Homo sapiens: one gene and its partners. The protein of the gene in region 1 purifies or fractionates together with the protein of each later gene. This does not show direct contact. Each region holds a gene or a part of one and is shown in the gene's direction. Other genes may lie near its edges.

Region 1 (6,357 bases):
ATGTTGGGCATATATATTATTAAAGGCTCTTTGGTCCTTGAAAATTGGTCTGTGGTAGGTTCACATAGCTTAAGTCATATATCTAACAAGAAATATTTGGCTCAGTAAATTTTTAAGAGGGTATACTCAAACACGGAAATACTTTCACTTTTTAAGCTAGAATATTATTGCCATGTTATTTAAAGTTGAGCTACCAGATGGGAGAAAAAATTCACCGGATCCTAAAATACTTGTTAGTATTTTGGCATGTTTAATTTTGTATATTTTTCTCTGCATTTTAAAGCCATAGCTATAATATGCACATATCAAGTTTGTACCCCAGGGCATGTTTTCAGAGTAATTATTTCAAGTAACATTATGTGTTGGTATAGTTAGATGAATCATGTTCTCCCTAAAACTTAAGCTTTCTTGTTTCTAGGGTTACTAGACACAGGACCGTGACTACTGTAAGCCTCAATTTTGTTATCATGAGAAGTACCATTATGAGGAGTAAATGAACTAACAGGAGAGAGCCTGTTGTGGTATTGGCTCTTAGTGGGTACTTAGGAAATGTTAACTTCTCCTTTCTTTGTTTGCTTAAATTATCTTGGGAGAAGGTGCCCATATGTTATTTGACCCTTTAAATAAAATTAAATTTTATAGTTCTTTTCCCTTAAATAATCTTAACCTTATAAAACCCAAGAATGTTCCTGTGTAAAAGAACTTGGTTACATGTTTGCTTGTATTTCTTTGAAAAATAGAGTTATTTATTTTTATTTATTTATTTTTATTTTTGACAGTCTCACTCTGTCACCCAGGCTGGAGTGCGATGGTGCAATCTCAGCTCACTGCAACCTCCGCCTCCCAGGTTCAAGTGATTCTCCTGCCTCAGCCTCCCTAGTAGCTGGGATTACAGGTGTCCACCACCACGCCCAGCTAATTTTTGTATTTTTAATAGAGACAGGGTTTCACCATGTTGGCCGGGCTGGTCTCGAACTCCTGACCTCAGGTGATCCACCACCTCGGCCTCCCAAAAGGTGTGAGCCACCTTGTCCAGCCTAGAGTTATATTTTTACAAAACAGAAGTATGTATGAGAAAATTCGCCTTTTAAAAAAGAAAAAATCTAGCTCTTCACGGTCAGTTTTCTGTAGTAATCTGAGGGCATGCTTTACAAATCTGTTTTGATGAAGGCTGGTTATATTTCCCCATTTGGGGATCCAAATAAAACCATTTCACTGATTGGCTTTCTGTGGGGGTGTTTCTATATGGGTATAGGACAAGAATTCTCCATTTAGGTGCACATAATCCTGTATTTTAAAAAAATCACAGAAAAAATTTAATGTTTTATTATTAATGGTTTTTTTTTTTTTGCACTTTCCTAATTTTTTCTCACTTTATTTTTCAGAATGAAACTAGTGATCGAGAAGATGGCCTCCCCAAAGGACATCATGTGACAGACTCTGAGAACGATGAGCCCTTAAATCTTAATGCTAGTGACTCTGAAAGTGAGGAGCTTCACAGGCAAAAGGACAGCGACTCTGAATCTGAGGAACGTGCAGAGCCTCCTGCAAGCGATTCTGAAAATGAGGATGTCAATCAGCATGGGAGCGACTCTGAGAGTGAAGAGACCAGGAAATTACCTGGTAGTGACTCTGAAAATGAGGAACTTCTTAATGGGCATGCAAGTGACTCAGAAAACGAAGATGTTGGGAAGCATCCCGCCAGTGATTCTGAGATTGAGGAGCTCCAGAAGAGTCCTGCTAGTGACTCTGAAACAGAAGATGCTCTAAAACCTCAAATCAGTGACTCTGAGAGTGAGGAACCCCCAAGGCACCAAGCCAGTGACTCCGAAAATGAGGAGCCTCCCAAACCTCGAATGAGTGATTCTGAAAGTGAGGAGCTTCCTAAACCTCAGGTCAGTGATTCAGAAAGTGAGGAACCCCCAAGGCACCAGGCCAGTGACTCTGAAAATGAGGAGCTTCCCAAACCTCGTATCAGTGACTCAGAAAGTGAGGACCCTCCGAGGCACCAGGCCAGTGACTCAGAAAATGAAGAGCTTCCCAAACCCCGAATCAGTGATTCGGAAAGTGAGGATCCCCCAAGGAACCAGGCCAGTGATTCGGAAAATGAGGAGCTACCCAAACCCCGAGTCAGTGACTCTGAGAGTGAGGGGCCTCAGAAGGGGCCTGCCAGTGACTCAGAAACTGAGGATGCGTCCAGACACAAACAGAAGCCAGAGTCAGATGATGACAGCGACAGGGAGAATAAGGGAGAGGATACAGAAATGCAGAATGACTCCTTCCATTCAGACAGCCATATGGACAGAAAAAAGTTTCACAGTTCTGATAGTGAGGAGGAAGAACACAAAAAGCAAAAAATGGACAGTGATGAAGATGAAAAAGAGGGTGAGGAGGAGAAAGTAGCGAAGAGAAAAGCTGCTGTGCTTTCTGATAGTGAAGATGAAGAGAAAGCATGTAAGGAGTTACCTTGGGCTGTTTATCAATGGCTTTATTCATTGTCTAAGCTTGTAACTGTGGAACATTGTATCCTCTTGGTATGTCAGATCTGTGTTCTGTTATTCAGCTTAATATTCTAAAATATCAGTAGGACACTCATTTCCCCTGGTTATCATTAGCTAAGCTTAATAGTAAGTTTCCTTGGAGTTCTATTAGCACATATTAATCTCTGACTGCCTCAAAGTGATAAACCACATGTCAATAGGAATATAAAATACTGTTTTTTTTTTTTAAAACTGGAAGAGGTAATGTTTCAAAGAAATACGTTTACATAAAAACCCCTAACTGTATTAATTGTTAGCTGTGGGTCTCTTTGACACTTAGTTCACTAGATCCCATCCAAACAGTAACAGCTCCCACAGGTACATCTCTTCATTTGTTAAACATTGTTGAATATTCAGATACAGGGAAGCTTTGAGAGGATTCTATTTAGAGACACCATCTCTCTCCAGAGTGTTTCAGTCTCTGCTATCTAAGACTCCATTTGCACAGATAGTATTACTTGTCTACTTTTTTATGAAACTTATCTTTTTTGGAAAAGACATATTTCATTATAACCTCACAGTTCTTATAGGAGAAGGAAAAGGTACCAGACATGCTGTCAATTTGTTAAGGGAGATGAGAAATTTCAAACTGACCAGCAATGATAGAGGAACATGGAGACTATTCCTAGAAAGAAATATGTAGTCCTTTTTAGTTCAGTTACTACTAGGCAACATAGAAAGGATGCCAGTTTTGCCCATCAATCTAGTTTTAATTTTCTCGATTTCCCAAAAGGAAAGGTGGCTGCTTTTATATTGATGATATCTTTCTTCATCTTTTGGCCAGTTTTTCTTAAGCAAAATAACAGATAATTTGTAAGATGACTCTGAATGAGCCATTTAGTTATTTTAAAAATTCTAAACCATGTGTCAGGAGGCCCTCTGATTTTATTTTATTTATTTATTTATTTATTTATTTATTTATTTATTTTTGCTGTATACTGCCATCTTAAAGCACCTGTTATGCTTAGTAATACAATGGCTGTGATAAAATAAAATTAATGATGATTTTCTTTTTCAACAGCAGCAAAGAAGAGTCGTGTTGTCTCTGATGCAGATGACTCTGACAGTGATGCTGTATCAGACAAGTCAGGCAAAAGAGAGAAGACCATAGCATCTGACAGTGAGGAAGAAGCTGGGAAAGAATTGTCTGATAAGAAAAATGAAGAGAAGGATCTGTTTGGGAGTGACAGTGAGTCAGGCAATGAAGAAGAGTAAGTGACAGTATAACATGAGTTTTCAGGGGTTCTTAATTAGGCAGTAGAGAGGGGTCTGTGTTATAATACAATATGTCCTGCCTAATTGCATGTCTTTGGGGATTTAGTATTTTAGTTCCTGAACTGAACACACTACAATGTGGGTGAATCTCAGAATTCATCTCAGAATTAACATGTTAAGTGAAAGAAAGCAAAGAGGACATATATGATTCCATTTACATGAAGTTCAGTAGGCAAAATTTATCTGTGGTGTTGGAAGTCAAGGTGGCAGTTGTTTCTAGGATGTTGATATTGGGGACCAGCTAGAAGGGGCCATGAGAGGACTTTCTGGGGAGGCTACATGAGTGTATAGGGTGCTGGTTACATGAGTGTATATATTTGTTAAAACTCATTGAACTGAACACTGAAGATCTGCACATTTTACTGTACATAAATTCTATTTTTTAAAAAATGGTTCCTATGCAAATGAGGATAAAGCAAATGAATGTTTTTACATTTGTCTACTTTCTAGAAATCTTATTGCAGACATATTTGGAGAATCTGGTGATGAAGAGGAAGAAGAATTTACAGTAAGTATAAGATGGAAATATTTCCTCCTTGATTGTGCTTTTTTTTGGTGTTTTTATGGCAGTGATACCATTATAGATGATTCTAATAAGTAGGAATAAACAATTATGATGTATTCAAGATAAAAATCTAGAAGAGGGATTCAGGAAGTAAAATGAAAGCGTATATACAAAGACATAAAAGGAAGCTAATGGGCAAAATTGAATTAAGGGGGAAGGGACACTTTGAGACAAAGAAAGTCACTTTATAATGCTAAAGGGCAAGATTCACAATAATTAGGGAACTTCCGATTTTCACAGTGGCATTCTAGGTGATTTGGACTAACCCCTCTGCCAAGCACAACTAGAAAAGCTAGACAAAAATATATAGAAATCTGCTCATTATCTAGGAACAAAGTAGCAAAGAATTACTAAGCCAAGAGAAACCTAAAGTGGTAATTCAGTGTTTAGAAGTGCTTTTTCTGTGGGGGTGTTTGCCTGTCAGGCTGAGAGGCTACTCATATTTTTGACAGCCTCAAGGCTTGGGGACAAAATTTAGAGTTCGGGGCCTATTGAGGTTAGGGGGCTTTGTAAACCCCATACCCTGGATTGAGACTTCAGAGAGCAGCACCATAAGATTTAGGGGGAAATAAAATAGCCTTTGCTCAGATTTTAGGCCATCTTTGAATCTTCTGGCAGACTAGAGAATCTCAGTCTCAGAAATAAGATTACAGTGGTTTAAGTTTTTCATATGTACTTATTATACACAAAAATAACATTAAAAGGTAACAGTAATGATGACAATAGTAATAGACTTAGGGCTCTAGATATAGGAATTTTAGATACCACCTTAAATATGTTCAGGGAGATAAGAAACAAGATTCAAAATGTCAGAGCAAACAAAAAGAAGGCAAATTTGGAAAAGAACCAAGTAGAAATTTTAGAACTATAAAAATACAGTAACTGAAATTAAAAACTCGATGTACAGGTAGGTAGGTGCAAGTAGCTGGTAGTCCCAGTTACTCGGGGGGCTGAGGCTTGGGGGTAGCTGGAGCCCAGAAGTTCGAAACCAGCCAGGGTAAAATAGTGAGGCCCTGTTTGAAAAGAAAAATGGGGTGGGAGGGGGTGGGGAAAACAGAAAACTTAGTGGATGAGTTTAGCATCAGATTAGACATACTTGAAAATAAGTGAACTGGAAGATGGCTTAGAAGGAGAGATCTGGAATGAAGCTTCAAGATACAGTATTACAGAAGAAAGGAAAAGATATAGACTATACATCGAAAAGTTTTCGCAAAAATTGGAATAATGAAAGGAGAGGGAAAGTTACATGTATAGCAGAAGCAGTATTTTAAAAGGAAATGATACCTAAACCATAGATTCTCGAAGTTGTACACATTGCAAGGAAGATAAACAAAAAGAAATCTACACCTAACTACATCGTAATAAAACTGCAAGAAACCAACGAAAATAGGAAAGTCTAAAAGCAGCCACAAGGGAAAAAAAATACGTTCAGAAAAGTAATGATTAGACTAACAGCTGACTTCACAACAGAAACAATAGAATCTACTAACTGCAAACCTAGAATTTTGTTAAATTTAGCAAAAATACTTTCCAGGAATGAAGATGAAATAAGGAGGGAATTAATTAACAGTGTACCAGCTGAAGGAAATACAGAAGGAAAGAAATGCAAGAAAGAATGATCTCAGATGGAAGGTTAGAGATGCAGGAGGGAGAAAAGAGCAACAAAAGTATGTGTATAAGTCTAAATGAGTATTGACTATACAAAATGAAATGTATTTAATGTGGAATATATATAAAATTAAAACATGACAGCAGTAAATTGGGAGCATACGTGGAATTGAAGTGCTCATAGGCCTTTGCAAATGTGTATGAATGTACATTAGTAAACTGATAAGTTAGGGTGCATGTTGTAGTCTCTAAAGTGACCACTAACAAGACTAAAATGGAATGTGTAATTTCTAAACTAATAGGGGGGGAAAGTGGAACAACTAGAACTAATCAGTCGAAAATGAGCAGGAAAAGAGAAAGAACTATAGG
Region 2 (3,500 bases), on another chromosome or scaffold:
CCTGAGGGTGTGCTCCGCCCTGTACCTCAGTGTGGTTCCTATGAACCGGAGCCTCTGGGCGCTTCCAGGCTGGACCAAATCTGTGAACACACACACAGCAAGAAGAGCCCAGTCTCCACATGAGCAGTTCTGTGTGGCTTGACTCAAATGTCTTATTTACTCTGGGCATTTCTTGGCTGAGAAGGCTGGAGTACACTAGTACTCTAAGACAGTGACACAGTGACCTTATTCCATTCTCCTTTTCCAATTGGCATTTCCCTTAGCTCTACAGTTAGGCCAAACGGGCCTTTTAGCATAGAGAAAGCAGAATCTGAGAGATTCTTTTGGGTAATAGGAACTCTGGATGGGCTGGGCCAGTGAGCTTACAGATCAAAAGTTAAATGCTTGACTCTGGCATTAACAAGCTAATATGCCACATCTATAGGGCTTTCCTTGGGTAGGGTAGGGGACTTTCTTCAGATTAAAAAAATACAGCATATATATATATACACTCATTTCTGGCTGACAAAACTACCTCTGTATGTATGATGGCACTAAAGATACTAAAATTACATATTTTTGTAAAAAGCAGTAATGTCTTAGATTAGGGAAATTTGCAAGCTGAGTAAGTCTGAAAAGAACTGAAGATGATCTTATAAAAACCCTTTCAGTCAGCTAATGTAGAATTCTATGGTCTTAAGTAAAAAATACCCTTAGGCCGGGCGCTGTGGCTCATGCCTGTAATCCCAGCACTTTGGGAGGCCGAGGTGGGTGGATCATAAGGTCAGGTGTTGAAGACCAGCCTGGCCAAGATGGTAAAACCCCGTCTCTACTAAAAATACAAAAATTAGCCAGGCATGCGTGGTGGTGAGCACCTATAATCCCAGCTACTCGGGAGGCTGAGGCAGAGAATTGCTTGAACCTGGGAGGCGGAGGTTGCAGTGAGCCAAGATCATGTCACTGCACTCCATCCTGGGTGATAGAGCGAGACTCCGACCAAAAAAAAAAAATACCCTTAGCACTTAAGTCCTAAGGGAGCTGCCCCACCCAAGCTGAGGCTTCAGGTTCCTATCTAAGGGGGGGAAAAAAAAGAGAAAGGAAATCCTGTTTCCTTTGCTTTGGGGATGGTGACAAGGAGAGCAATTTAAAGGGTTGGAAAAAGCTGTGTCAGGCCCCTTGCAGTCTCTGGACTCACTGCTTCCTTGTTGAACGTGCTGGGCCTCCACTCTTTCCTAGGCGTCATTAGCGCTGCTGAGGGGTCTCGCTCAGGGTTAGCTTTCTCCCTTGGTCAGGGGAAGGGACTTTTTTTTTTTTTTGAGAAGGGGTCTCACTCTGTCACCCAAGCTGGAGTACAGTGGCATGATCTCGGCTCACTGCAACCTCCGCTTCCTGGGTTCAAGCGATTCTTCTGCCTCAGCCTCCCAAGTAGCTGAGATTACAGGCACCCACCACCATGCCTGGCTAATTTTTGTATTTTTAATAGAGACGGGCCTTCAGTATGTTGGTCAGGCTGGTCTCAAACTCCTGACCTCATGATCCGCCCACCTTGGTCTCCCAAAGTGCTGGGATTACAGGCGTGAGCCACCACTGCCCAGCCGGGAAGGGACTTTTGCAACAGTATGAATGTTTCTTTTAGACAGAACCTTGTTCTTGATTTTGGGTAGCATTCCAAAGGAAGGAGAGGGTTCTTGTGTTAAGAGGTCCCTTCAGGACACGGAGAGAGGTTGAGTGATGAGCTGGAGAGACCTGGGCTTTTGGGGAGGAAGGACGATGTGAGGTTAAGAGCATCGTATTTGTTGAAGACACAGAGTTGAGGAAGGCTCGCTCTGTGGAAGAGGGCAGTGGAGCTGGGTTGGGATGGAAGAGAAGAGGAATGATACCTCACCTTGGGAGAAGCAGCCCGCAGAAAGGCCTGAAGTAGCAGGAGTCAAGCCCAGATTAGGTGGTCTGAGTGGACGGAGGTAAGGAAGAAACAAGGGCTGGTAAGATTTTAGGCTAGAGAACTTATCTGTAACTGTTGTTTTTGGTGTTGCTAGTACATAAAATCTCACTTGTCATCTTTCTTTCCTCCTATCCCACACCTGGGCTCACCAGGGATCCAGTGAGGGGACTGGTTTGTCTGCCTTGCTTCCCCAACCTAAAAACCTGACTGTGAAAGAGACTAACAGGTTGCTCCTGCCCCATGCCTTCTCCCGCAAACCCTCGGATGGCTCCCCTGATACTAAGCCCTCCAGACTGGCTTCTAAGACCAAGACTTCCTCTCTTGCCCCTGTTGTGGGCACCACAACCACCACTCCGTCGCCCTCTGCTATCAAGGCTGCTGCCAAGAGTGCTGCCCTGCAGGTGACAAAGCAGATCACGCAGGAAGAAGACGACAGTGATGAGGAAGTAGCCCCCGAAAACTTTTTCTCCCTCCCTGAAAAGGCTGAGCCACCTGGAGTTGAGCCATACCCTTACCCCATCCCCACTGTCCCTGAAGAGCTGCCTCCAGGCACGGAACCAGAGCCGGCTTTCCAGGACGATGCAGCCAATGCCCCCCTTGAATTCAAGATGGCAGCAGGTTCAAGTGGGGCCCCTTGGATGCCTAAGCCTGGGGACGACTACAGCTACAATCAGTTTTCCACATATGGCGATGCCAATGCCGCTGGTGCTTATTATCAGGTGGGTAGGAGGCACAGAGGGCAGGCGAGGGAATGTTGGAACATGGTGGTCAAGGAGAGCTTTGAGCTAGTGATACAGCCTCTGTGGTGTCACTTTGGCTAAATTAACCTTCTCTATTTATTAGGCCACAGAACATACCTTTATTCTGAACCATATTAATCTAAATTGCCCAAGTCTTAAAGTGTGACAGGGTGAACCACATAAATGACATCTTTATTCTGAAAACAATCTATTTATTTTTTATTGATCCATAATATTTGTACATATTTGTGATTGATATATATATATATATATATATATATATATATATATATATATATATATCTGTTTTTTTTTCTTCCTAACCTTTATTTTAGGTTCAGGAGGTACATGTACAGGTTTGTTACATGGGTAAATTGCATGTCACGGGTTTGGTGTACAGATTATTTTGTCACCCCAGGTGATGAGCATAGTACCTGATAGGTAGGTTTTTGGCCTTTTTTTTTTTTTTTTGGAGAAGGAATCTCACTCTGTTGCCCAGGCTGGAGTGCAGTGGCACAATCTTGGCTCAGCTGCAACCTCTGCCTCCCGAGTTCAAGTGATTCTCCTGCCTCAGCCTCCCGAGTAGCTGGGACTACAGATGTGTGCCACCCTAACATGCCCAGCTAATTTTTGTATTTGTATTTTATATTTTTTGAGACGGAGTCTTGCTCTGTTGCCCAGGCTGGAGTGCAGTGGCACGATCTTGACTCACTGCAACCTCCGCCTCCCAGGTTCAAGCAACTCTCCCACCTCAGCCTCCCAAATAGCTGGGACTACAGGCACATTCCACCATGCCCGCTAATTTAATTTTTGTATTTTTAGTAGAGACGGGGTTTCAC
Region 3 (5,556 bases), on another chromosome or scaffold:
CACCCAGGAGTAGGCTGGGCCTTGCTCAGGCTGTAAACTGCACAGACCAGGAGCTGTGACCTCTGGTGTGTCATGCACACACATGTGAGCAAGGGTGCCTGCCCTAGGGGCCGCAGGCAGCCCATAGACAGCACTAGAGCTGCTGCATTTGGGCTGATAAGCAGGCAGCGAGGCTGTGTCCATGATGCTGCAGAGGCCTCTGCCTACCTTCTCTTGCCAGCTGCTCACAGCCCGGAGCCTGCCTGCCACCCTCATCTCCAGGCCACCCCCTTCCCCGATGCTTGTCGTAGGTATACACAGCCCTAAGGAGCCTGTCCCATGACCCCCGCTCACATCCCCATTGTCCACAGGAGAAGCGCATTGCCTCGTTGGATGCCGCCAATGCCCGCCTCATGAGTGCCCTGACCCAGCTGAAAGAGAGGTACAGCATGCAAGCCCGTAACGGCATCTCCCCCACCAACCCCACCAAATTGCAGATTACTGAGAACGGCGAGTTCAGAAACAGCAGCAATTGTTAACCTGCCTGAGGAGGGAGGAAGCTACCCAAGGAGAGGGGGACTATGGTGGCCAAGGGCAGGGTCTCGGCCTGGGGAGGCACCCACGGTTGCAGCCCCAGCGCGGGTGTCAGGAGGCCGAGCCTCCCCTCCCTGCCGCTGTCCAGGAGGCGGCCGCAGAGGGAGCCACCAGAGACTGAAGCAGCGTGAGGCGAGGTCACCAGCCGCTCCCTGTGGGGTGCGGGCAGAAGAGACTGCACGCTGGGGAGTGGGGACAGCCTGATGGGGCAGGGGGCCTGCCAAAAATATGTCTGTTGGTTCCTGAATGTGGTGTGTCCTTGTCCTCCTGGATCTGGCCGAGTGCATGTGTCCCCCCACACCTGTGCCAGGGAGGGGGCTTCCTGGAGGGGGGATTCAAGGGCTAGGGGCCTACACCTGTGGCTTCCCCTCGCCTCCTTGGGGGGCCCGGGACTCCCTGGCAGCCAGGCCCTGTCATGTGGGACCTGGCACTTGGCAGATCAGTTGGCAGGCAGGAAGATAGGAGGACACAGAGCAGGAGGTCAGTGTCCCCTGCCTGTCTCCATCCGAAGCACCTGCCACTGCATGCAGCCTGTTGGGACCTTCCTGGCTGTGAGGAACTGAGGATTCCTACCCACCCACCCCCTCTGAACCTGTCCCCAGAGCACCACCTGCTACCTTCTTCCCTGCCTTAGTTGTATTGCCAGATAGACCCAGTGAGGGCCATGGCTTTTTCTTGTGAGCTCTTGTCCCTGTGGGGAGGACCCACAGCTTCCCACACCTCCCACACAGGCCCAGGCTGATGCTCTAGGGCTCCCAGAAGCCAGAGATCTGGGCGGATCTGGCCAGATGGCTCTGAGCACTGTATCTGCCTTCTCCTGGGGCCCAGCACACCCAGGGCACAGTGGTCCTGTAGGGAGTGCCACCTGGTGCTCACCCTGAAAGAAAAGGTGATCCTTCCTCTGAGTGATGGTTTAAAAAAAGATTCTAACGCCTGCAGGCCCTGAGAAGGTGGATAACTGTGATTTTTTTTCCTTTCACAGTATGCATTAGAAACAAAAGCCCGCTTGCTCGCTTGCTGGAACACAGGGGCCTTTTAAGTTGAGCGTGCGCACTGCATGGGAAATAGCGGCCCTGGAGGATGTTAGACTTGCTCCCTCTCCAAGACAGCAGCAGCCTGCACCTGCCCCGTGTGTGTGGCCGGCCTCCTCCTCACCCTTCCCGGCCCCCGGCCAAGGACCCAGGCGCTGCATACAGGGGAGGGGCGCACCCCACAGCTGGGGCCGGTTTTCCTCAGCTCTAGGCTGTTCTGTAGCTTATCTGCCCCTCCCCCACTTTCAAGACAGATGAGCAGGAGCTTGGGTCTCTCTCGGCCCCTGTCTGTTCCCAGCCCCTGCAGATTCTGAGCAAAGGCCCTGGGTAAGAAGGGTGGGAGTGGGGCCTTTGCCAGCAGAGCCAGGGCAGGGCGAGCTGCAGGAATCACCCCTCTGCCCCTGCAGCTGGAATGTGCCACAGAGGCCCCACCTGAAGGGTGGATGTGCTGGAGGGGTGGCCCAGAGCCATACTGCGTCCACCCTGAGCTCGGGGACAGGTGACAGTGGCTGCTCTGGGAAGGGGCTTTTAGATGTAACCTACAATTCAGTTAGGCTAGAGACAGATGCTGGTGGAGGAAGGGCTGGGCCACCAGGGATCACAGACCACAGGAAGATGGGAGGTGGAAGCAGAGGCCCTGCCCCCACCCCTTCCTGTCTCACTCTTCTGTCTTGTCCCCACCCATGCGCCTTCGTGCCTGAGACCAGGGTGGCCACACAGGCAGGGCCTGGCTCCAGTCTCATCCTCCCATTGCCCAGTGAGCCCTGCTCTTCTCTCCCCAGCCCCCTCCCACCGCTGCCTCGTAGAGTGACCTCGGACAGAGCCCCCCTAGCAATACAGGGAGGCTCCCGGGGCCTGGACAGGCGGGCTCGGAGGCTACCCGCTGTGGCCGGTGCCAGCTGCCCTTGCAGGGTGGGTGAGCTCTCAGGCCGAGAGCCTTATTTACCTAGTGCAAAAACTGTAAAAGTGTACAGACTCTTCACAGATTTTTATCTTAATTGCAAGTCTGCCGATTTTGTAAATGTTCTTGGTGTTTGACTGTAATGTAACTATCTCACCTAATGGTTGTACATATCCTTTGGTCCTGGTGCTGCCGAGGGCTGGCCGGGACTGCTGCTCTCCCAAGGGTTTTATTTTATTTCTGAATCTAGAGAACAGTATTGGGCAGGAGGAAAAGGCTTGGTGTCTGCGGGGGGTGTCTTCCCTGCCTGTGGCATTTGTGTGTTGGCTTTGCAGCTGCTGTCTGAGTAGTGGCCACTGGGGTGCCTTCACTGGGCCAGTCAACGGGGGGCTCCTGCCCAGGCCACAGAGAACCTGAGTTCCCGGGAGCTGGGCCCTGCCTGCAGCCAGGGCTGGGGTTGCCAGAGGCCCTGGAGGGAAGGACAGTCCCTGCTGGGGAAGAACAGCCCCGGGGCCCCCTGGTCACCGAGACTCAGCCTCTGCTGGAGAAAGCCACGCCCTCCCTGCTAGCACAGAGGCCTGACTGACTTTTTTGCTTAACTTCCATGTTCTGGGTGATGGAAACTGCCAAACCTCCTGTCAGTGAGGACTCTTTCCGACTGCCCAGAAAGTGGGGGTGGAGGACCGAGGCTACAGCTCCACACGCCCCGGTCCCCCAGAGCATCTGCCCCAGGTACACCTCCCCCTGCGCCCCGCACGACTGCGGGAGCCAGACTGTCCAGGGAAACAGCCTCTCTCTTTTCTACACACTCAGCCACAAAGCCCCCCAGCTCCCACACCGCGTCCCAGCTCCCCTCTTTTGTAAGTATGTGAAAAGGAAAAAATGCAAACGTTGGAGTTTGGGCTGGAGCTCCTCCCTCCAGCTGCGACTTTTAACTATGTAATAATGTACAGAGGAAGCTGTTGGTGTTCTAAGACTCTGTGTGGCTGTGCAATTTCTGTACATTTGCAATTAGAAATATTAAAGATTTATTTAGCTATTTTAAGCCCGACTCGTGTCTCCATTCAGCTGTGTGTTAAGGGATGACCCTGAGTCCGGAGCGGACACTGTCCTTTACCAAGGGGACCCCAGCATCTGGTTCACTCTGGTGGCATTCGTGGGCAGGGGATACCCCTAAAGCCAGTGGTGGTGGTCTGGCCAGCTTGGCTCACTGGGAGATCTGGGATTGCCCCCTCCTCCTCTGGGTTGAGGGGTCTCTGCACCAGGGAGTAGAGCAGTTGTCCTCTTAAAGGCTCTTCTCTGGCTCTGATACGTTTGGAAGAAAAGTCTGCTGGTCCCACCACCTCCTGGGAGACAGGGTGGTCCCAGCACCTTCACTGCAGCACACACTGGCTCTTGCCAGGCCCTGCATTAAGCGCTTTCTCATCCACTGAAATCTGGCTCTGGGAGGGAAGAGACCAGGGAGAAGAGGTGGGCCCAGGTCCCAGCAAGTCATGGCAGGGCTGGACTAAACATTTCCAAGCTTTCAACACCTTGAAAGTCAGACTCGGGCTCTCCCAACACAGACCCACCTGCAAGGCTGAACTCAGGCCCTTGTTGGGAAATAACCAGCCCCCAAGCCCCTTCAGCTGCACCTGTACAGAGAACCTTGCAGCCCTGGGTCCTGCCCTGCATCTTCAGCATCTCAGGATCTGGTCTTTCAGTGCACAGTAACTCCAGACGCTCCAAGGGACAGGTCCTGGTCCCAGCCCTAGCCCAAACCCCTCAGAAACCAGATACTGCCTGGGCCGAGCTTCTGCTGGGGGCAAGGATACCTCTGGTCAAAAAGCCAGATGGAGCTCCGGGTCTGTCACCTAGACAGGTGCCTCTGGCTCCAGCTAGGGATTGGGCCCCAGAGAGAAGCCTCGGGCCTGTCCCTGTTCTTGCCCCTGCAGCCAGCTGGAAGCAAGTACGGCAGAGCCACACACCGGAGCAGGGCTGCACCGTCACCCTCACCGGTGGCCCTTGTGTCCCACCTCCCACCCTCCAGCACCCTGGCTTCTCAGGCTGTCCATCTCTAGCCTCCTGCCAGGACCCCCTTTGAGCCAGCCACTCCTGGGGCCCACCCTGGGCTGCTATCACCTCTGACCTAGGAAAGTGTCATCCGTGCTGCTCACAGCGGGCACAGCTGCCAAGCCTTCCCTGCTCATCCTCCACATCAGCACTGGTCTGCAGACCGGCCCCTTTCCTCCCCAGCCTGTGTGTTCTCTCTGCCTTCCCCCACCAAGCCTAAACCCTGTGGGCTCCCTCCTCAGCCCATCTTGACAATATTCCTTGACCACTTCGGCCTAGGGGCCACCCAACAGCCGTGATCTCCAGGCCACCAAGCACTGCAGGAGAAAACTAAAAAACACCCCAGTTCTGACTGCCCTGTGGGTCTGTTCCCATCTCCATTCTCAGCTAGGCCTTCCTCTCTCATTCTCCACCCCAGTTAATCCAAACTCGTACCTCTTTTCAGATCTCCCAGCCAGCCAACTGGCCCTTCTCTGAGCCCTGCCTCCTCCCACACTGGGTGACCCCCCCAACCACCACCCCCTCTCCTCAGGCCGACCACCAGCACAGCTACCCCAGCTCTCAGCAGCGGCAGGAGAGGAGGCAACCTGTTTCTTCCCAAGGCAGCCCCTAGCCAGTTCCTGCATCCCTGCCTCTTGCTGCCTCCGTGGCCTCTAAACCTCCAGCCTCCCCCGCCCCCACCCCGCTCTTTCCTACAGCATTTTAAAGTGCTAGGTCTCCACTTGCTTCAGGCTGTCTGCTTTTCTCCCCTTCAGCCAAACTTCTTGAATGTATACTGCCTGCAGCGGCCTGCCATCTCCACAGCCTCAACCCCCATTCTCCCCCCACCCATCAAAACCTGACTTTGACCTCCCGCTCCTCCACCGCCCCATTGCCTCTGCACTGCTGTCCCGTCCCTGGGTTTCAGGGACCACCATCCCTCTGCTGGGGAGATGCTCATAAGGAACACAGAACTCAAGGAGACAGCAAGGAATGGGACAAAGAAATCATTTGATGTTG
Region 4 (6,349 bases), on another chromosome or scaffold:
TTTCCAAGCTTGCCCATCAGGAAGGTGGAGCGGTTAAGAACTCATATGCTAAATGCCACCCAGTGAAGGCCAACAGAGACCTCACTGCCCCTGCTTCTGGGCAGCAGCTATAGTGACCATTGGGGCCATCACAACGTTTAGACAGGTTTGTGCAGCAGCACATTCCTCCCCTGGGCCTTTGACTGGATGTGCACCAGATTTCCTGCCAGCCTGACTGTCTTGCTTGGATCTGCAGAGAGCCTGTTACCTATCCATAAACCCCCAAAAGGATGAGACGCTAGAGACAGAGAAAGCTCAGTACTACCTGCCTGATGGCAGCACCATTGAGGTAGGTGGCCTGCCTTCTTTCTTCGGTCCCCTTAGGTCCACAAAAGCTCTGGGCCCAACCAGAATTCTCCATCAGGGTCTGGAGTCTGGCAGGCCAGTCCCTTTACACCAAGCTTGTCCAACCCCTGGCCCATGGGCTGCACGTGGCCCAGGATGGCTTTCAGTAAGGCCCAACACAAAGTCGTAAACTTTCTTAAAACATTATGAGATTCTTTTGCAATTTTTTTTTTTAGCTCAGCAGCTGTCATTAGTGTTAGTGTATATTATGTGTGGCCCAAGACAATTCTTCTTCCAATGTGGCCCAGGGAAGCCAAAAGACTGGACACCCCAGCCTTACACCCTCTCTCTGGAGCAGCAGAGCTCCTGAGCATGAGTGGCCCTGTCTCCTGCAGAGGAGGCAGCCAGAACTTTGCTCCCTCCCGCTAGAGGGGAGGAAGCTCCTAAGGGATTGTCCCACATCAGTATGAGATTAGGAAGTGGGATGGTTAGTGCCATCCTTCACCACACCTGGGTGCAGTGTAGGGTGAGTTACCACTCCCTTGAACCCCCATTGCTAGGAAGACGTTTCCATGAGCAAATAAATCCATGTACTGATGCCAAAGACCTCTTGGCTGGAAAATGCCAGAGCGAGAAGGAAATATAGGAGCCTCCCCTCACTAGTTTCCAGGAGGCCTATCTTTGTTCCTTTAAGCCCTTGACATGTAGAGTCTGTCTTGAGCCTGGCCTTCATAGCCACCCAGTTACTAAGTGACGTGCAGAGGGGCGTCTTCCATTCCCACTCCCAAAGGGACCTTGGTCCCAGCTCCGACCTCTTCAGCTGGCCCTCCTACCTGCAGATTGGTCCTTCCCGATTCCGGGCCCCTGAGTTGCTCTTCAGGCCAGATTTGATTGGAGAGGAGAGTGAAGGCATCCACGAGGTCCTGGTGTTCGCCATTCAGAAGTCAGACATGGACCTGCGGCGCACGCTTTTCTCTAACATTGTCCTCTCAGGAGGCTCTACCCTGTTCAAAGGTTTGTCTCTTCTCTTGGAGCCCTTCCCCTGGAAGTGTTCAGCTCCTGCTGGCTCCAGGCACCCTGAGAATTGACTTGAAGTTCTCCTCTTTGCCCATTCAGGTTTTGGTGACAGGCTCCTGAGTGAAGTGAAGAAACTAGCTCCAAAAGATGTGAAGATCAGGGTAGGAGCATGGTGGGGCCTGGCCTGGGTGGAACTAGGCTTCCATGGACAGAGTGCCACCTGGCGTAGCTTCCCTCTAGCTTTGCCCAAGCTCTTCAAGCAGCCATGGCTCTACAAGCAGCGCCAGGTTCCCAGCCTGTACACTGACCCTGAGGTCTAGGTCAGCCACAGGGAGGCTGAGTTCTCATTCTCCCTCTTCACACCAAAGGCAGGCAGTTCTAATACCCAGATGAGGCAGGGTACTAGGTAGAGGGCCCCCTGCGTGATCTTTCAGGGAAACTATAATCTTAAGAGGAGACTGACTTACTGTTGCTGTGCCCCCTGCCCAGGTGGCTCCCCTGTCACACAGTCTGACACCTTAGTGATAGGTGAAGGAGGTTGGCTGTCTGAGGAGAGCGGGGATCCTAAAGGAAGGAGTACAGTTCTTGCCATGGAGTCTGCTTCTCCCTGCCCCCCCCAATAGTCCCAGCTTCCCTGGGACCTGTGGGGACTGGAAACCTGCTTCCCCAGATGAGTGGCAGGCTGGCCACAGTGCCCTCCAGAGAGGCCAGAGCTTCAGGCTTGTGTAAAATGTATCCCCTGCCATGGGCAGAAAGAGGAGCATTGTAGGGAAAGGGAGCGGGAGGGCTGGAAGTCTCAGATTCCTCTTTCCCCCACCTTTGCAGATATCTGCACCTCAGGAGAGACTGTATTCCACGTGGATTGGGTGAGTAGCTCTTCCAGGAGTAAGAACAGAACAGGAAGTGATGGCACTGATAACCCCTCAGCACCCTCTAAAGAAAAGCCTGATTTGGTTTGGCCCCAGGGGACTGGTAGGCTCCACACACAGCCACTTCTCTCTCACACAGTTCCTCTGGGTTTCCTCCCTCCAGGGGCTCCATCCTTGCCTCCCTGGACACCTTTAAGAAGATGTGGGTCTCCAAAAAGGAATATGAGGAAGACGGTGCCCGATCCATCCACAGAAAAACCTTCTAATGTCGGGACATCATCTTCACCTCTCTCTGAAGTTAACTCCACTTTAAAACTCGCTTTCTTGAGTCGGAGTGTTTGCGAGGAACTGCCTGTGTGTGAGTGCGTGTGTGGATATGAGTGTGTGTGCACATGCGAGTGCCGTGTGGCCCTGGGACCCTGGGCCCAGAAAGGACGATGAACTACCTGCAGTGGTGATGGCCTGAGGCCTGGGGTTGACCACTAACTGGCTCCTGACAGGGAAGAGCGCTGGCAGAGGCTGTGCTCCCTCCTCAGGTGGCCTCTGGCTGGCTGTGGGGGACTCCGTTTACTACCACAGGGAGACAGAGGGAGGTAAGCCATCCCCCGGGAGACCTTGCTGCTGACCATCCTAGGCTGGGCTGGCCCCACCCTCACCCCCACCCCCAGGGTGCCCTGAGGCCCCAGGCAGCTGCTGCCTCCACTATCGATGCCTCCTGACTGCACACTGAGGACTGGGACTGGGGTTGAGTTCTGTCTGGTTTTGTTGCCATTTTGGTTTGGGAGGCTGGAAAAGCACCCCAAGAGCTATTACAGAGACTGGAGTCAGGAGAGAGCAGGAGGCCCTCATGTTCACCAGGGAACAGGACCACACCGGCCACTGGAGGAGGGCAGGAGCAGTCCTCACTCTGAATGGCTGCAGAGTTAATGTTCCCAGCCCAGTCCCCTTTCGGGGGCCTTGGGAGAGTTTAAGGCACCTGCTGGTTCCAGGACCTCGCTTTCCATCTGTTCTTGTTGCAATGCCATCTTCAAACCGTTTTATTTATTGAAGTGTTTGTTCAGTTAGGGGCTGGAGAGAGGGAGCTTGCTGCCTCCTGCCTTGCTACACTAATGTTTACAGCACCTAAGCTTAGCCTCCAGGGCCCCACCTCTCCCAGCTGATGGTGAGCTGACAGTGTCCACAGGTTCCAGGACCATTTGAGATTGGAAGCTACACTCAAAGACACTCCCACCAGGCTCTTTCTCCCTTTTCCTCTTGCTCACTGCCCTGGAATCAACAGGCTGGTTGCTGGTTAGATTTTCTGAAACAGGAGGTAAAATTTTTCTTTGGCAGAGGCCCCTAAGCAAGGGAGGGGTGTTGGAGAGCCAGTGCCCTTAAGACTGGAGAAAGCTGCAATTTACCAAGTTGCCTTTTGCCACTGTAGCTGACCAGGGGACTAGGTTGTAGAGGTGGGAAGGCCCCCTCTGGGCTGATCTTGTGCCATTCTTGACCTTGGACCTGCTTGGTTAAGGAGGGAGTGGGCCAGACCAGAGTGCCAGGAGCTAATGGAGCCAGGCCTGACTCCTAGGAGTGGTCCAAAGGCCTTCAGCCTAGATGGTGCAAAGCTGGGGCCAGCCTGTCTTCACCGGCACCCTCACCTGTGACACCAAGACCCACCCCAATCCCAGACTTCACACAGTATTCTCCCCCACGCCGTCCTATGACCAAAGGCCCCTGCCAGGTGTGGGCCACAGCAGCAGGTATGTGTGAAAGCAACGTAGCGCCCCGCGGACTGCAGTGCGCTTAACCAACTCACCTCCCTTCTCTTAGCCCAAGCCTGTCCCTCGCACAGCCTCGCACAAACCACATTGCCTGGTGGGGCCCAGTGTACTGAAATAAAGTCGTTCCGATAGACACGTCAGCTGGGCCTCTATCTGTCTGTCACCAGGGCCAAGTGGAAAGAGGAAGAGCAGCAGGCACTGAATCTGAGGTGGTGACTGGGCCTGATCCATCCTCTAGAGGGCATCATTGCACCAGCCAGCCTTGTCCAGAGCATAGCCCAAGTCCCAGCCTGTCAGGTGGATGCAGAGAAAAGGGTGATCACACCACAGCCTAAGTTCAAGAACAGAAGGTCCCACTCCTGTGTACACTGTAGCCCATGGGTGAGACTCAACTCCAGATGACAGGAGCAGCTCTCAACATCCCTGAAATCAAAGATTCTCAAAACTGTCAAGTGAATAAGAAGGCCAGGAGCTTGGCCGGGCACGGTGGCTCACGCCACACCTGTAATCCCAGCACTTTGGGAGGCCAAGGCAAGTGCATCATAAGGTCAGGAGTTCAAGACCAGCCTGGCCAAGATGGTGAGATCCCGTCTCTACTAAAAACTACAAAAATTAGCCGGGCGTGGTGGCAGGCGCCTGTAATCCCAGCTACTCAGGAGGCTGACGCAGGAGAATCGCTTGAACCCGGGCAGTAGAGGTTGCAGTGAGCTGAGATCGCACCAGCCTGGGCGACAGAGTAAGACTCTGTCTCAAAAAAAAAAAAAAAAAAAAGAAGAAGGCCAGGAGCTTATTACAGTGCAGTTTCCAGGGCCCATACTCAGATATCCTGATTAATCACTTCTCCGTTTAAAACCTGCACTTGGGAGGAAAATTGCCAGGTCTTTGCCAAATGGTAACTATTTAATCTTCCCAATAACCTTACAAAATATACGTGCTTTTGTTGTCCATTTTACAGATAAGGATTTGGAGCCACAGAAAGATTAAGCAATTTTCCAAAGTTCTGCCTTTTTTTTTTTTTTTTTTTTTTTTTGAGATCATGTCTCACTTTGTCACCAGGCTAGAGTACAGAGGCACAATCTCAATCTCCGCTCACTGCAACCTCTGCCTCCTGGGTTCAAGCAATTCTCCTGCCTCAGCCTCCCAAGTATCTGGGATTACAGGTGCCTGCCACTGTGCCCAGCTAATTTTCATATTTTTAATAAAGATGGGGTTTGACCATGTTGGCCAAGCTAGTCTCGAACTTCTGACCTCAGGTGATCTGCCTGCCTCGGCCTCCCAAAGTGCTGGGATTACAGGTGTGAGCCACCGTGCCCAGCGCTGGCCTTTCTTAATCCCGAATGTAAACCCAGGCCATAGAACCTACAGCCTACATTTTTAATCACCATGCAGCCTGTAAAAAACCATTGGCCTAGAGCAGTGGTTCCCAATTGGAACCAATTTTGCCTCCCAGGACACATCTGGCAATGCCTGGAGATGTATTTGTTTGTCGCAACTGGTGTGTGTGTGGGGTGGGGTGGGGGGTGCTAAATGTCTACAACAGAGAACAATCTGGCCCCAAATATCTCCAGTGCTAGTGCCAAGGTTGAGAAATGGTGGCTGAGAGTCATGGTTTTCAGTGCCAGCTGCATGATAAAATCACCTACAGAGATGTTCAAAATCCTACTGCCCAGGCCATACCCCAGACACATTAAGTCAGAATCCCAAGGAATGGAACTGAGATGTCAGTATTTTTTAAGTTCCCCAGGGGACCCCAAGGCTGAGAACCTCGGGCCTAAAAGAGGCTCCTCTCTCTTTGACTACCATGTCCAGCAGTGATACATGGGAAATGCACTGAGGCCTAATGGTCATTTTGGGCCCGAGTGCCTATGCAGTTACCAATCTATGTTTTTCTCCCTGGCATCTTGGTAACCCACCAAGGTGGGTTTTTTTTTTCTTTGAGATGGAGTCTCATTCTGTCGCCCAGGTTGGAGTGCATGCAGTGGCGCGATCAATGCAACCTCCTCCTCCTGGGTTCAAGCGATTCTCCTGCCCCAGCCTCCCAAGTAGCTGGGATTACAGGCACACACCACTACACCTGGCTAATTTTTGTATTTTTAGTAGAGATGGGGTTTTGCCATGTTGGCTCAGGCTGGTCTCAAACTCCAGACCTCAGGTGATCCACCCACCTCGGCTTCCCAAAGTGCTGGGATTACAGGCATGAGCCACTGCGCCCGGCCTACCTACCACTCTTATTCAGAAAAATGCTCTCAGGGGCTTTTTCTAGTCAGTAAGGAATCCTGGTTCTCAACCCCAGCAACCCACCACTCACTCACACAGCACAGACTTGAGGAAAAAGAATGGCTGACTTTAATCAGTCTATAAGGAAATAAACATCTTTAG

The links.
Region 2: the proteins of IWS1 (region 1) and PRCC purify together in Homo sapiens (affinity purification with mass spectrometry; one large-scale study listed by BioGRID and IntAct). This does not show direct contact.
Region 3: the proteins of IWS1 (region 1) and DAB2IP purify together in Homo sapiens (affinity purification with mass spectrometry; one large-scale study listed by BioGRID and IntAct). This does not show direct contact.
Region 4: the proteins of IWS1 (region 1) and ACTR1A purify together in Homo sapiens (affinity purification with mass spectrometry; one large-scale study listed by BioGRID and IntAct). This does not show direct contact.

The regions. Positions count from the first base shown.
Region 1 is NC_000002.12:127,500,781-127,507,137, reverse strand, and holds part of IWS1 (protein IWS1 homolog), read left to right. Parts: intron 1-1,385; coding exon 1,386-2,454; intron 2,455-3,561; coding exon 3,562-3,751; intron 3,752-4,265; coding exon 4,266-4,323; intron 4,324-6,357.
Region 2 is NC_000001.11:156,784,535-156,788,034, forward strand, and holds part of PRCC (proline-rich protein PRCC), read left to right. Parts: intron 1-2,073; coding exon 2,074-2,640; intron 2,641-3,500. UniProt on the Homo sapiens protein: May regulate cell cycle progression through interaction with MAD2L2.
Region 3 is NC_000009.12:121,781,981-121,787,536, forward strand, and holds the end of DAB2IP (disabled homolog 2-interacting protein), read left to right. Parts: intron 1-350; coding exon 351-518; 3' UTR 519-1,555; coding exon of another isoform or gene 1,556-1,565; 3' UTR 1,566-3,550; downstream 3,551-5,556. UniProt on the Homo sapiens protein: Functions as a scaffold protein implicated in the regulation of a large spectrum of both general and specialized signaling pathways.
Region 4 is NC_000010.11:102,476,990-102,483,338, reverse strand, and holds the end of ACTR1A (alpha-centractin), read left to right. Parts: intron 1-235; coding exon 236-328; intron 329-1,163; coding exon 1,164-1,338; intron 1,339-1,440; coding exon 1,441-1,502; intron 1,503-2,166; coding exon 2,167-2,207; intron 2,208-2,373; coding exon 2,374-2,476; 3' UTR 2,477-4,110; downstream 4,111-6,349. UniProt on the Homo sapiens protein: Part of the ACTR1A/ACTB filament around which the dynactin complex is built. The dynactin multiprotein complex activates the molecular motor dynein for ultra-processive transport along microtubules.